Regions from separate parts of the Homo sapiens genome. Here region 1 is linked to region 2. Evidence: fine-mapped expression QTL. A gene starts in region 2. The other region holds a variant in brackets. All regions are shown on one strand. Distances are between the middles of the regions.

The links. PIP is the estimated chance that this variant, and not a neighbour inherited with it, causes the effect.
Region 1: its variant is fine-mapped to the expression of MKRN1 in whole blood (INTERVAL, PIP 0.94).

What each region holds. Positions count from the first base shown.
Region 1 is chr7:140,500,360-140,503,265 of GRCh38, reverse strand. No RefSeq gene overlaps it. Among named protein-coding and RNA genes, the nearest start is that of MKRN1, 22 kb to the right of the region's middle. The variant T/C (reference allele first, on the strand shown) is at 1,098.
Region 2 is chr7:140,478,128-140,481,033 of GRCh38, reverse strand. It overlaps MKRN1 (makorin ring finger protein 1), which reads left to right and starts at 1,529. Exons shown (of 8, transcript NM_013446.4): 1 at 1,529-1,874. The coding sequence starts at 1,690. RefSeq lists enhancers at 182-1,092, 1,423-2,263 and silencers at 1,399-1,508, 1,799-1,938, 2,219-2,298.

The sequences.
Region 1 (2,906 bases), 22 kb before region 2:
GAAACTCCATCTCATCTCAAAAAAAAAAAAAAAAAAGAAAAAAGAAAGTGATGGCAAAAACCGCAACTACTTTTGTGCCAACCTAATACAACAATTACCATCATCCATCTCCAGAATTTTTTTTATCTTCCAAAATTCTATACCCATTAAACAACCCCCATTCCCCCTTTTTCCAACTCCTGGCAACCACCATTCTACTTTTTGTCTCTATTAATTTGACATATTTTTCTTATTTTATTTTGAGACAGGGTCTCACTGTCACGCATGGAGTGTATTGGTGAGCTCATAGTTTCCTCCAGTGTCAACCTCCTGGGCTCAGGTGATCCTCCCATTTCAGCCTCCCAAGTAGCTGGGACTACAAGTGTGCGCCACCAGACTGGCTAATTTTTTTTTTTTTTTGAGACAAAGTCTCACTCTTGTCCCCCAGGCTGGAGTGCGATGGCGTGATCTCGGCTCGTTGCAATTTCCGCCTCCCGGGTTCAAGCGATTCTCCTGCCTCGGCCCCCCTGCCCGAGTAGCTGGGATTACAGGTGCTTGCCACCAGGCCCGGTTAATTTTTGCATTTTTAGTAGAGACGGGGTTTTACCATGTTGGCCAGGCTGGTCTAGAACTCCTGACCTCAGGTGATCCACCCACCTCAGCCTCCCAAAGTGCTTGGATTACAGGCGTGAGCCACCCCGCCCGGCCTAATTTTTTGTTTTTTGTAGAGACCAAGTCTCACTATGTTGCCCTGGCTGGTCTCGAACTGCTGGGCTCAAACGATTCTCCCACCTCGGCCTCATAAAGTGTTGGAATTACAGGTATGAGCCACCGCACCCAGCCCACATGTGGATTTTAAAGCTGTCCAGAATTTTGATATGGCTTGGCATAGACAGACTGCAAGGCAGGCGCTAAGGTCTCCGATAAATGGTCAGGACTTGTTTACTTGACTCAATTAACAGGGTTGATTTGTTTTTCAGAACAGCTTGTGTGTAGAAACCTTGAGTAGAACTTGGAAACATCCCAGTTAGAAGGGTAGATAACACCAGCAAAACCGGCAGCTGCAGGGCCCAGAGCTGCCTTTCTTCCACAGCTAGAATGTAATCTGACCATGCCAG[T/C]CCTCTGCCTGAAACCACCCAGGGGCTCCCCATGGCCTGCAGGACTAAGTCCAGCCACCAGCTGGCTGCAAGCTGCCCTGGCTGCCTAGGCCTTTATGCTCCAACAATAAATGCACAGGTCGGGCCAGGTGCGGTGGCTCATGCCTGTAATCTCAGCACTTTGGGAAGTTGAGGTGGGCGGATCACCTGAGGTCAAGAGTTCAAGACCAACCTGGCCAACATGGTGAAACCCCATCTCTACTAAAATACAAAAATTAGCCAGGCGTGGTGGTAGGCACCTGTAATCCCAGCTACTCGGGAGGCTGAGGCAGGAGAATCTCTTGAACCCGGGAGGCGGAGGTTGCAATGAGCTGAGATTGAGCTGCACTGCAGCCTGGGTGACAGAGCAAGACTTGGTCTTAAAAAAAAAAAAAAAAAAAAAAAAAGAAGCAGGATGGAGTCAGTTAAGTCAGATCTCTTTCACTGTAATAATTCTGTCAGTTATAATTTTGGCAAAGGTGGTTTTATTGGCAGGGCAAGTGTCCCCTAACATCTCTCTCCTTGGCTTGCAGAGGAGTCTTCTGTGTCCTCACAAGGCCATCCCTTTATGGGTCTTTATGGGTGTCTATGTCCTAATCTCTTCTTCTTCTAAGGAATCATGTTGGATTATGGCCCATCTTAATGAGCTCATTTTAATTCAATTACCTCTTTAAAGACCCTGTCTCCAAATACAGTTACATTCTGAGGTAAAGGGGGTTAGGACTCCACATGAATTTAGGGGTGCGGGATACAATTTAGCCCATAACAGGGTCAAATTTCGTAAGGCTCTGTAGATCATGTTAAGGATTTTAATTTTAACTTTAAAATTAATCAGAAGCTGGACGTGGTGGCTCAAGTCTCTAATCACAACACTTTAGGCGGCTGAGGCAGGAGGATCACTTGAACCCAGAAGTTCAAGACCAACCTGGCCAACATAAAGAGACCTTGTCTCTACCAAAAAAAAAAAAAAAAAAAAATTTGCCAGGCATGGTGGCACATGGCATAGTCCCAGCTGCTCGGGAGGCTGAGGCAAGAGAATTGCTTGAACCCAGGAGACAGAGGTTGCAGTGAGCTGAGATTGCGCCACTGCACTCCAGCCTGGGCAACAGAATGAGACTCCATCTCAAAAAATAAATAAATAAATAAAAATTTAAAAATAAGATGAAAGGAATCTGAAACTATGAAAAAATTTTGCTGGGCGCGGTGGCTCACACGCTGGGCGTGGTGGCTCATTCCTGTAATCCCAGCATTTTGGGAGGACGAGGTGAGGTCAGGAGTTCGAGACCAGCCTGGCCAACATAGTGAAAGCCCATCTCTACTAAAAAAACAAAAATTGGAAGCGCCCAGTGGCTCACTCAGCACTTTGGGAGGCCGAGGTGGGCAGATCACGAGGTCAGGAGTTCAAGATCAGCCTGGTCAATGTGGTGAAACCCTGTCTCTACTAAATACAAAAAAATTAGCTGAGTGTGGTGGTGCACGTCTGTAATCCTAGCTTCTCAGGAGGCTGAGGCAGGAGAATTACTTGAACCCAGGAGGTGGAGCTTGCAGTGAGCTGAGATTGCACCACTGTACTCCAGCCTAGGCAAGGGAGTGAGACTCCATCTCAGAAAAAAAAAAAATTACAAAATTTAGCCGGACGTGGTGGCGGGCACCTGTAGTCCCAACTACTCGGGAGGCTGAGGCAGGAGAATCGCTTGAAACCGGAAGGCAGAGGTTGCAGTGAGCCAATATCGTGCCATTGCACTCCAGCCTGGGTAACAAGAGCGAAACTCCATCTCAAAAAATTTAAAA
Region 2 (2,906 bases):
GTTTTTACCACAAACACATACACAAAATATTCATGTGAGGTGATATGCTAAATCTGCTTGACTGTAGTAATCACTTCACTAGGTACATGTATATTAAAACAATGTTTTACACCTTAAATACATACAATTTTAAAGACGCATTAAAAAAAAAGCTAGGATATTCCAGACATATTTTGTTACTCATTATGTATTCACTGCAGTGTGAAAAGCACAATGCAAAGGGGTTTTTTTTTTTTTTTTTTTGCTTTTTGTTTTTTTTTTTTGAGATGGAGTCTAGCTTTGTCGCCCAGGCTGCAGTGCAGTGGCTAGAGTGCGGTGGCGCGATCTCGGCTCACTGCAAGCTTCGCCTCCCGGGTTCACTCCATTCTCCTGCCTCAGCCTCGGAGTAGCTGGGACTACAGGCGCCCGCCATCATGACCGGCTAATTTTTTTGTATTTTTTAGTAGAGACGGGGTTTCACCGTGTTAGCCAGGATGGTCTCAATCTCCTGACCTGGTGATCCGCCCCCCTCGGCCTCCCAAAGTGCTGGGATTACAGGCGTGAGCCACCGCGCCCGGCCAGTACAAAGGTTTTTAAACAGATTCTCATTTAACTTTCACAGCCATCTCTGAAGTAGGTACTATTATCTATTACTATTATTATTATTTTGAGACGGAATTTCATTCTGTCGCCCAAGCTGGAGTGCAGTGGCGCGATCTCGGCTCACTGCAACCTCCGCCTCCCGGGTTCAAGGAATTCTCCTGCCTCAGCCTCCTGAGTAACTGGGACTAGCCACTACACCCGGCTAATTTTTGTATTTTTAGTAAAGACGGGGTTTCACCACGTTGGCCAGGCTGATCTCGAACTCATGACCTCAGGTGATTCGCCTACCTCAGCCTCCCAAAGTGCTGGGATTACAGGCGTGAGCCACCGCGCCTGGCCTATTATTATTATTATTGTCGTTTTTACAGAGGAGAAAGCAGGAGCACCAAGAGGTAGGATAATTTGCTAGAAGACCCATGGCTTAGAAAGGGAAGCCTGGAGATAAGGGGACCAGCCCTCTAGAGCATTGCTCAGCCAAAATACTTGGCCAAGATCACATCTCTGATACCAGGAATGAGATAACCTTTATTAAGTGTTTACCATGTACCAGGCACTAAGCTCAGTGATTTCTAAGGACATCATATAATCCTCACAGCAACCATATGTGGGTCTGCTGTCATCCTTATTCGAGAGAGGCTGAAACGGAGGCTCAGATAGAACAAGTACCTAGCTCAAATATTACTAGAGAAATGGGAAAGTGCAGATTCAAACCCAGGTCTTCCGACTGCAAGTCCCTAGTCCCCAGCCCCAGCTCCACTATATCAGCCTCTGCTAGGAAGAAAGCCGCTAACTATGGACTTTCGTCGCCGGGGTTTCGAGCCTAGGACACACCTGTACAGACCCCCGTTTGCCCCGCCCCTTTCCGGAGGAGACGTCCCCTCCACCAATGAGCGGCGCCGTGGGCGGGCCGCGGGCGCGCATGCTCTGGGCCCGCAGTTGAAGTGGCGAGAGCGCTCAGATACGCGACGCGTAGCAGGCGGGGACCGAACGGGTGCCTCAGTGTCCTTCCCCTCCCCTCGCCTGGCCTCGCCGTCCTCTCCCCGCAGCCGGACCGGAACTATGTGATCCCGGAAGTTCCGGGGCCTTTGCTGTGTGGGATAAACAGTAATGGCGGAGGCTGCAACTCCCGGAACAACAGCCACAACATCAGGAGCAGGAGCGGCAGCGGCGACGGCGGCAGCAGCCTCCCCCACCCCGATCCCCACAGTCACCGCCCCGTCCCTGGGGGCGGGCGGAGGGGGCGGCGGCAGCGACGGCAGCGGCGGCGGCTGGACTAAACAGGTCACCTGCAGGTAGGACGTTGCGCGGCGGAGCGCCGGGCGCGGGGAGGGGGCCGCGGGCCAAGCCTGCGGCGCGGGAGGGAGGAGGGCGGCCGGCCTGCGGCTAGAGGCGCGGGAGGGCGGGGACCGGCGTTGTCTCGATCTCTGCAGCCCTCGCGGCCCCCGCTGCCGCCGCGTTCCCCCAGTCACTGCGTCAACCCCCGCTGGGCCGCGGAGCCCTCAGCGCTGTCCGCGGAGGCCTGGCGGTGCGCGATTACTGCGGAGCCGCGGGGCTGCACCGCCGCTTACACTTCCCTGAGCGCTGCCTGAGCTGGCTGCGAGCGCATCGGGGAGAGGTGGGCTGGCTCCTCCCCTGCCGCTGGAAGGATGCCCCCGCCGCTGCCTCCGGCTCCCGGGGCTCGGGAGGTGGTCACTTGAGGCCGGTCTCCCAGCGATCCTCTCCGGGCCTAGACACCCCGCCGAGGGCCCCAGCGAGCTTGCCTGGCTCCCGGCCCTCTCCTCTCTCCGTGCCATCCGTTTGTAACGTCTTTTCACGTCCCTCCGTCCCTCCGCCCCCCATCCTCCGCCCAACTGTGAGAAGAAGCTTTTGTATTTCTTCTTTGTATGTTTGTCGAGGTTGGCGGTGCTGAGCTTTGTCTTAGAAGCAGGCGTTCGGGGGCCGGGGTCGTCTTCTCCACCCGCGGTTTTTTTGAGCTGCAGATTATTACCCTCCCCCAGCGCTATGTTCCTCTTTTGAAATTTACGCATCTTCCGAAGGGAGTGAAAGGGCTCTTCGCTCCCGGAAGAGAGAGAGGTTTGGTTTTGGTTTGATATGCGAGACGAAAATATTAGAAAAATTAAGGGATGGCGGTTGTATGGATGTGTATGGTTGTAAAAAACTACCTAGCTCTACGCAGAAGAGGGCATTTAATTGTACGTTTTTTATTTTCCGGTTTTTAAATAGTGATCAGTAGCGACTGTAAGCTTTTCTTTTTCTATCAGTTGAATAAATCAACTGAAATGCCGGTTTTCACCTGGGTGGTATAATTTATATGCAAGTATGTA